2 separate regions of the Homo sapiens genome follow, and region 2 is linked to region 1. Evidence: fine-mapped expression QTL. A gene starts in region 1. The other region holds a variant in brackets. All regions are shown on one strand. Distances are from middle to middle.

What was found. PIP is the estimated chance that this variant, and not a neighbour inherited with it, causes the effect.
Region 2: its variant is the best candidate, but not a certain one, in a credible set for the expression of NOSIP in testis (GTEx, PIP 0.53).

Annotation. Positions count from the first base shown.
Region 1 is chr19:49,578,697-49,583,077 of GRCh38, reverse strand. NOSIP (nitric oxide synthase interacting protein) reads left to right here and starts at 2,522. Exons shown (of 9, transcript NM_001270960.2): 1 at 2,522-2,563. PRRG2 (proline rich and Gla domain 2) reads right to left here and starts at 1,762. Exons shown (of 7, transcript NM_000951.3): 1 at 1,597-1,762.
Region 2 is chr19:49,552,310-49,556,690 of GRCh38, reverse strand. It overlaps NOSIP (nitric oxide synthase interacting protein), which reads left to right. Exons shown (of 9, transcript NM_001270960.2): 7 at 1-142; 8 at 266-374; 9 at 869-1,223. The coding sequence ends at 940. Among named protein-coding and RNA genes, the nearest start is that of NOSIP, 26 kb to the left of the region's middle. RefSeq lists an enhancer at 1-639. The variant A/CAAA (reference allele first, on the strand shown) is at 2,402.

The DNA of each region.
Region 1 (4,381 bases):
CAGATACTGTTTACCTATATAAACTCATTTTACTTTTTTTTTTTTTTGACATGGAGTCTCGCTCTGTCAGCCAGGCTGGAGTGCAGTGGCACAGTCTCAGCTCACTGCAACCTCTGTGTCCTGGGTTCAAGCGATTCTCGTGCCTCAGCCTACCAAGTAGCTGGGATTACAGGCATGCGCCACCACACCCGCTAATTTTCTTTTTTTTTTGAGACAGAGTCTCGCTCTGTCACCCAGGCTAGAGTGCATTGGTGTGATCTCCGCTCACTGCACACTCCACCCCCCAGGTTCATGCCATTCTCCTGCCTCAGCCTCCCGAGTAGCTGGGACTACAGGTGCCGGCCACCATGCCCGGCTAATTTTTTTGTATTTTTAGTAGAGATGGGGTTTCACTGTGTTAGTCAGGATGGTCTCGATCTCCTGACCTCGTGATCTGCCCGCCTCAGCCTCCCAAAGTGAATTTTCATATTTTTAGTAGAGATGGGGTTTCACCATGTTGGCCAGGCTGGTCTTGAATTCCTGACCTCAAGTGATCTGCCTGCCTCAGCCTCCCAAAGTGCTGGTGCTGGGATTACAGGCGTGAGCCACTGTGCCCGGCCTCAACTCATTTTACTTTTCACAGGAGTCATACAAAAATTAGCCAGGCGTGGTTGTGGGCGCCTGTAATCCCAACTACTTGGGAGGCTGAGCCAGAATAATCACTTGAAAGGGGAGACAGAGGTTGCAGTGAGCCGAGACTGTGCCACTGCACTCCAGCCTGGGTGACAGAGCGAGATTCCATGTCAAAAACAAAACAAAACAAAACTTTTCACAGGAGTTTTTTTTTTTTTTTTTTTTTAGACAGAGTCTCGCTCTGTCACCCAGGCTGGAGTGCAGTGGCGCTATCTCAGCTCACTGTGACCTCTGCCTCCTGGGTTCAAGCGATTCTCCTGACTCAGCCTCCCGGGTAGTTGAGATTACAGGTGCGCACCACCACGCCTGGCTAATTTTTTGTATTTTTAGTAGAGATGGGGTTTCACCATGTTGGCCAGGCTGGTCTCAAACTCCTGACCTCAAGTGATCCACCCGCCTCGGCCTCCCAAAGTGCTGGGATTACAGGTGTGAGCCACTGCGCCCGACCAGGAGTCCTATTATTATCCCCAGTATAGAGAACAGGAAACTGAGGCACAGAGAGGTAATATAGCTTGCCGAAGGTCACACAGTGTGCAAGTGTGAGAGCCAGGATTTCAGTGAAGGCAGTGTCCGCCAGAGAAGAAAGCAAGGAGCAGGCAGCTTATCTTTCTTTCCCCACTGTGTCTACAGCACCTGACACAGATGCTTATAAACATGTCCACTGGTGATCTGGAGTCTTCCCTTCCTGGTAATTTCCACTTGTGCCTCTTTCTGTGCTCATTGTCACATCCACCCACAGACAACAAAGATTACGAGAGAGGCAGAGGCAGGGGATTAGTTATATTATTGGGTCTAGGGACCTAAGTGGGCAGGGGCCCTGGACTCCTGGGCCTAGGAGCCCCAAACTTCTGGGTCTCGGAGGGGCGGGGAGCCAGGATGCCTGGGTCCCCAAGCCAGGCTCTTCCTCCAGGGACATTCACTTACCTGCCCAGAAATGTGAGCACTGCCCCTTCCTCTTTAATCGAGAACTCCTTGGCCAGCTACAGCCAGCTGTGAAAGGGGACAGGGAAGAGGGGAGGGGATAAGGAGGAGGGGCGCCCCACTCCCGGTAACCAGGCCTGATCCCCGTTTCTGGCAGGTGGGCGGAACTTGCCATTACCTGCCCTGGGCGGGACTCAGGTAAGGGACAAAGTATTTAAAGGGACCTTGGGATAAAGGACTTAAAGGCCAGAGCTCCATGAGGAAGCCAAGGTGTCGAATACCATGGGATACCTGGGGGATTAGATTCGACCCTCCTCCTCCCTCCCGACCCCTACCCGCTCTGGCTCTCCCCTGGGAGTTCGTCTGTCCGAGCTAGAAAAATTAATATCTAGGTCTCTAGGTATCTAGAAACTAGCGGGAACGATATGCCTTAGTCCCTGGGACAGCTGGGCAGTGCCGCAGTAAATCCCTGTTTCCTGAGAGCGACTTGAACGGCTTTGATTTTCAATTTCCCAATGGCTCTGTCTGTAAAATGGGAGCGTAGTTGTCTCTTCTCAATTGTTTTAAGATGCAGCAAGAAAAGTGGATGATATATTTGGGAAAGTGGGCTTCCCGATCTCTAGGGGAAGTGATTAGTCCTTAAATTTGGGCTTGGAGAGACTCAAAACCTGGGAACCAAGCAGGAAAAAACGATCTCCCTGGGAAATGCCTCGTACATAGTAAGCGTTCCCCATATTCCCACCAGTTTCAATATCCGGAACTTTCGATTAGCTACTCACGTTTCCGGAGAGAGAAAGAGAAGAGAGGACTTGAGCAAGCCAGGCGAGGCACTTCCGCAACTAGGGGCAGCTCTACTTCCGGTGCCTTCTGCTGGGCGGAAGTGGGCGGAGCGGAGGGGGAAAATAGTGCTCCTTTCCGGTGTCGGGGCACAGTTGAAGAAGCGACCGAGGGACTGGGAGTCGTTAGTGAGGTGAGTTCGAGGCGGTGCAGGAAGAGTGTTGCTGGGATCGCTTTCCTGCGGGCTAGAGGCCTGGGGTCTTGAGGGAGACTGGGGCAAGATTTTGGATTCCCGATTCCCTGTCAATCATTATTAATACAGCTGTCCGGGCGCCCCAAGTTTGAAGCTGAACTACACTCTGCTGGAGGTGGCCAACCGTCCATCGGGCAGTTCTCTCTCTCTTTGTCTCTCTCTCTCACTATAAACTCAGTCAAGTGGTAGCTAGCATCGGCCAGTTCTCCTGAGAGTTACAGTTCTGCTGTAGATGATGGCTATTTGCTGGTGGTCCCAAGGGAAGGAGTGGACTGGGATTGCTGGGGGTCTAAGGAGTGGGAGTTGAGGAGGGAGAACTCCTTTCCTGGCCTCAGTTTCTCAGACTGTGGTGGGACGGCGGGCGATACTAGATTGTGCAGTCATCCATCGCCACCTTCTCTTCACCTTTTTGACAGCCCCTTCCCTTTCGGGGTTGGTGCAGGGATTCACGTTTTCTTGTGTGGAGCTTCGGGGTCAGGCAGTCATGGATTCCCATTCTGATTGTGCTGCTAATTCTGTGAACTTGGGGCTTGAACGGTCCTTGAGGCAGTTTGATGTTAATGTTTTCTTACGAAAATGTTCAAACTTATATAAAAGTGAGAGAAGAATACAGGAATTCCTGTCACCCAAATCACCAATGATTATTTTTGCCATACTTGCTGTATTTTTTTAAACTTAAAGAGATTAAAACAAATCGTAGGCATCATGACACTTAAGGATTGTCAAAAGACAAAATTGCAACACATTTAGTGAGAAGATCTTAATTGGCATTTATTCGTGAATCTACAATCAAACAACATCTAATTATGGAAAATAGCGTGAGTGTTCCGATGAGCTGAGCAGAGGTTGTTTTCAGAGACAAAGGGCTGAGAAAATCAGAAACGGAAAACAAAAAGCTAGTTGATTAAATTGATTAACTTGATTAAATTTCTAAGTTAAAGGTTAAAGTAGAGGGGACTTCCTTTATCAGGTGGGCTAAAACTGGGTTGTTTGGGGATTTGGCTATTATCTCTCTCCTGATATCTCAGAAGATCAGATATCAACTTAGTTTTGGCTTGGAAGCATGGAACTTTAGCATGAGTGTCTCCATTTTGGTTTGGTCTGTTGAACCTAGTGCAGGAGCTCAATCCAAACCAATGACCTTCTATAAATTTTATCTAACAGGGTGCGTGTGTAAAAACCAGAAACATTGCTGATATGACCACAATACCATCATCACACTTTAAAAGAACAACCGTAATTCTAGACTACTATCCATTACGTGGTGCAGAGTCAAGTCCAGTGTAACTGTGGGTTTGTTGGAATCAGGATATAGTTAAGTAATTGCTATCGTCTTTTACATCTCTCTTAATTTAGAACTGTTCCCCCTTCCACTCCACTTTGGTTATTTCTTGGTGTAATCGATTCATTGAAGAAACTAATTCTAGTTCAGTTGATCATCCCACCATCTGAATTTGTCCCGTTTGCTTTTTTGTGGTCTCATTTTACCTGCTTCTGTTTTCTTTCTTTTTTTTTTTAAGTATTTAAAAATAGGCCAGACACAGTGGCTCATGCCTGTAATCCCAGCACTTTGGGAGGCCAAGGCGGGCGGATCATGAGATCAGGAGATCAAGACCATCCTGGCTAACACGGTGAAACCCCTTAGCCGGGCATGATGGCAGGCACCTGTAGTCCCAGCTACTCAGGAGGCTGAGGCAGGAGAATTGCGTGAACCCGGGAGGCAGAGCTTGCAGTGAGCCGAGATCACGCCACTGCACT
Region 2 (4,381 bases), 26 kb after region 1:
CGGACCTGACGCCCGTGCACTTCACACCGCTAGACAGCTCCGTGGACCGCGTGGGGCTCATCACCCGCAGCGAGCGCTACGTGTGTGCCGTGACCCGCGACAGCCTGAGCAACGCCACCCCCTGCGCTGTGCTGCGGCCCTCGTGAGTCACCTGGGAGGGGAGGGAAGGGACCACTCGGGAACCTGCGGGGCGGTCCGGCTTTGGGGCCAGTAGGTCCCCAGGAAGGCCCCTGATCAGAGTCTCCCGCCTTCGGCCTCACCGTAGTGGGGCTGTGGTCACCCTCGAATGCGTGGAGAAGCTGATTCGGAAGGACATGGTGGACCCTGTGACTGGAGACAAACTCACAGACCGCGACATCATCGTGCTGCAGCGGGTAAGAGTCCCACCCCTCCCCTTCCCCCAGCACTCCAAGGCCCCGCCCCTCCCCTTCACCCCCTCCAAGGCTTCGTCCCCTCCCCTTCCCCCAACTCTCCAAGGCCCCGCCTTCTTCTCTGCTCTGTAAGGCCGCCCCCCCCCCCCGCTTTCTCCTGCAAGGCCCCGCCCTTCCCCCCCTCCGCTCTCCTAGGCCCCGCCTCCTCCTTCCTTTTCAAGGCCCCGCCCCTTCCCTGCCTCCAGCCCTCCACGGCTCCACCCCCTCCACACGCTCCCTCCCAAGGCTCCTCCCCTGCCACTCTCTACCCTCTTCTCTGCGCCCTGCGCCCTGTCCATCCGTACCCACTGCGGTCGCCTCGCCCCCTCCCCAACTCCTACTCCTTAGCCAGCAACCCGCTTCACCTTGACCCGCTTAGGAATCCCCACTACCACCTGGAGCCCCACTGGTCACCCCCGGGCCGGCCTCTACCTCGTCCTTCTCTCTACCTCCCCCAGGGCGGTACCGGCTTCGCGGGCTCCGGAGTGAAGCTGCAAGCGGAGAAATCACGGCCGGTGATGCAGGCCTGAGTGTGTGCGGGAGACCAAATAAACCGGCTTGGGTGCGCAACGACGTGGCGCCTTCATTCGCGGCGTGGGCGCCCCGGGGACAGGGCAGGCGAGGATGCAGGGCCGTGCAAACAGTGCTCCTACAGCGCACGCTGGAGTTTGAAAGAGCGGGCTAAGCATATTGAATGTGGTCTCACATTAAGAACAAAATCTGGCCAGGCACGGTGGCTCACGCCTGTAATCCCAGCACTTTCGGAGGCCGAGGCTAGCGTATCACTTGAGGTCAGGAGTTCGAGACCAGCCTGGCCAACATGGTGAAACCTTGTCTCTACTAAAAATACAAAAATTAGCCGGGCATGGTGGTGCGCACTTGTATTCCCAGCTACTCCAGAGGCTGAGGCAGGAGAATCGCTTGAACCCAGGAGGCGGAGGTTGCAGTGAGCCAAGATCGCACCATTGCACTTCAGCCTGGGCAACAGAGCGAGACTCCATCTCAAAGAAGAAAAAAAAAAAAAAACCTGAATAGAACGCAAATGCACAGCATTAAAATTGGTTGAGTGGCCGGAAGTCCAAGTCTAAGCCAAGACCGTGTGAGTGCGCCACTTTAATGAGCTACATAGAAATTTCTCGAGTTCTTTGTTAGGGTTCCCGGATTTTTGCCAGGTTTGAAGAACAGGAAATGCCCAGGAACGTGTCTTCCGGGCTGCAGTGTGATTAGACCCACAAAGGAAGTGCAGTTCTGTGAAAAAGTGCGCAGCACCCGGACTAGGAAAGGCGGTCAGGAGCATCACGCCCCCACCTGTGGCAGCCTGAGGGGGAAAGGAAGAGGAAACCGCGAGTGCAAAGGCCCAGAGGCAGCAACGCACTTTGCAGATTTAAGGAGCAGAGGGCGTACAGGGGAGAGTGAGGGAGCCAGGGCAGAGCGGGGACCAGGAACCAGCCCGGTGGCGTCAGACTTGACTGGGAATGTAGGGGCTGTCCTTAAGGCCTTGTGTTTAATAACCATTGAGTCACAAAAGCAGCTGCTGGGCAGTGTGAAAAACAGCACGGAGACAAGCAAAGATTAAAACAAGACAGGCCGGGTGCGGTGGCTCACGCCTGTAATCCCAGCACTTTGGGAATCTGAGGCGGGTGGATCACTTGAGGTCAGGAGTTCAAGACCAGCCTAGATAGCCGGGTGCGGTGGCTCACGCCTGTAATCCCAGCACTTTGGGAGGCCGAGGCGGGTGGATCACGAGGTCAGGAGTTCAAGACCAGCCTGGCCAACATGGTGAAACCCCCATCTCTACTAAAAATACAAAAATGAGCCGGGTGTGGTGGCCGGCGCCTGTAATCCTAGCTACTCGGGAGGCTGAGGCGGGAGAATTGCTTGAACCCGGGAGGCGGAGGTTGCAGTGAGCTGAGATCGTGCCACTGCACTCCAGCCTGGGCGACAAAGTGAGACTCTGTCTCAAAAAACAACAATAACAACACCAACAACAA[A/CAAA]AAACACAGCATTCCTGCCTCGCAGAGCAATGCCACCTAGGTTCTGTCCTTCCTGTTCTTTATGTGAGTACACATGAGGTTTCAACCAAAGTGAATCACAGTGCATGCACCATCCTGTTCAGTGAGTAATACTTTTCCACTCCCCAGGCTGGAGTGCAATGGCATGATCGAGAAGGCACAACTTGAGCAAAGTCACACGTGCTCGAGGGAGTGACGGAAGCCAGGTTCCCCCAGGAGCCAGTTTCCTCTGAGACGCCCCCAGACTTTGTCCTGGACTTCCCCCATCCTTCATGTCCTCCCTCCCCTAGAGACCCACTGGCCTCTCCACCTCCACAAGCTCCCACCCCATCCCTCCATACCCAGAGTTCCATGTCATACCCTTTCCTTCCACATCCCTAATCCTTGTCCTCTTTCTCAAGACCTCTCAACCACCCGAGTCCTTCCAGCTTTCTCAGCCATCTAAGAACCCCAGTCTTGTTCATATGTTGAACAGATCACCGGTGCCCCCAGTAATAACCTGAAGGGTTTCTAATCTTGCACCTGTGTTTTCCCAAAGGAACTCAAACACCACTCTGTTCACAGACTCTTTGTGCAGTGCAGGGTGGGGAGGTCAAAGTCCTGGCTCCAATCTGTTCTGTCATTTTTTTTTTTGTTTTGAGATGGAGCCTTGCTCTATTGCCCAGGCTGGAGTGCACTTGCGTGATCCTGGCTCCTGCCTCAGCCTCCTGGGTAGCTGGGACTACAGGTGCTGCCAGCACAGCCAGCTGGTTTTTGTTTGTTTGTTTTGTATTTTTAGTATTTTAGTAGAGATGTAGTTTCGCCATGTTGGCCAGGCTGGGTTTTTTTTTTTTTTTTTTTTTTTTTTTGAGACGGAGTCTCGCTCTTTTGCCCAGGCTGGAGTGCAGTGGCGCTATCTCGGCTCACTGCAAGCTCTGCCTCCCGGGTTTACGCCATTCTCCTGCCTCAGCCTCCCGAGTAGTTGGGACTACAGGCGACCACCACCATGCCTGGCTAATTCTTTTTTGTATTTTTAGTGGAGACAGGGTTTCACCGTGTTAGCCAGGATGGTCTCGATCTCCCGACCTCGTGATCCGCCCGCCTCGGCCTCCCAAAGTGCTGGGATTACAGGCGTGAGCCACCGCACCCGGCTATCTAGGCTGGTCTTCAACTCCTGACCTCAAGTGATCCACCCGCCTCAGATTCCCAAAGTGCTGGGATTACACATTTGAGTCACCTCACCCTGTTCTGTCATTTAAGGTTCTAAAGTACTTGGAGAGGAAGCAAGAGCAGAACCACAGCTTCAGCCGTAGCAGAAGAAAGAGACGGGAAGTGAGACAAATCTTGTCTTTTTTGAGCAGAGTTTCCTTAGACACTGGTCTAAAGTTTAGAGCAAGACCTGGGCTTGGTGGCGCTGATGGCAGGCGTGCCTGCCGAGGGCTCCAGTTTCAAGAAGCTCACAGGCAGCGCGTCCAGAAAATTACAGTTACTTGTAAAGATTTAAAAACGGGCCAGGCGTGGTGGCTCACACCTATAATCCCAACACTTTGGGAGGCTGAGGCGGGCAGATCATGAGGTCAGGAGATTGAGACCATCCTGGCTAACAGGGTAAAACCCTGTCTTTACTGAAAATATAAAAAATTAGCCGGGCGTCGTGGCATGCGTCCGTAGTCCCAGCTACTCAGGAGGCTGAGGCAGGAGAATTGCTTGAACCTGAGGCAGACGTTGCAGTGAGCCAAGATCGCGCCACTGCACTCCAGCCTGGGCGACAGAGTGAGACTCTGTCCCAAAATAAAAATAAAAATAAAAATAAAAATAAAAAAATAAAAACGGGCCAGGCGCAGTGGCTCACACTTGTAATCCCAGCATTTTGGGAGGCCAAGGTGGGTGGATCACTTGAGGTCAGGTATTTGGGACCAGCCTGGCCAACACGGTGAAACCTCATCTCTACTAAAAAAAAATACAAACTTAATCGGGTGTGGT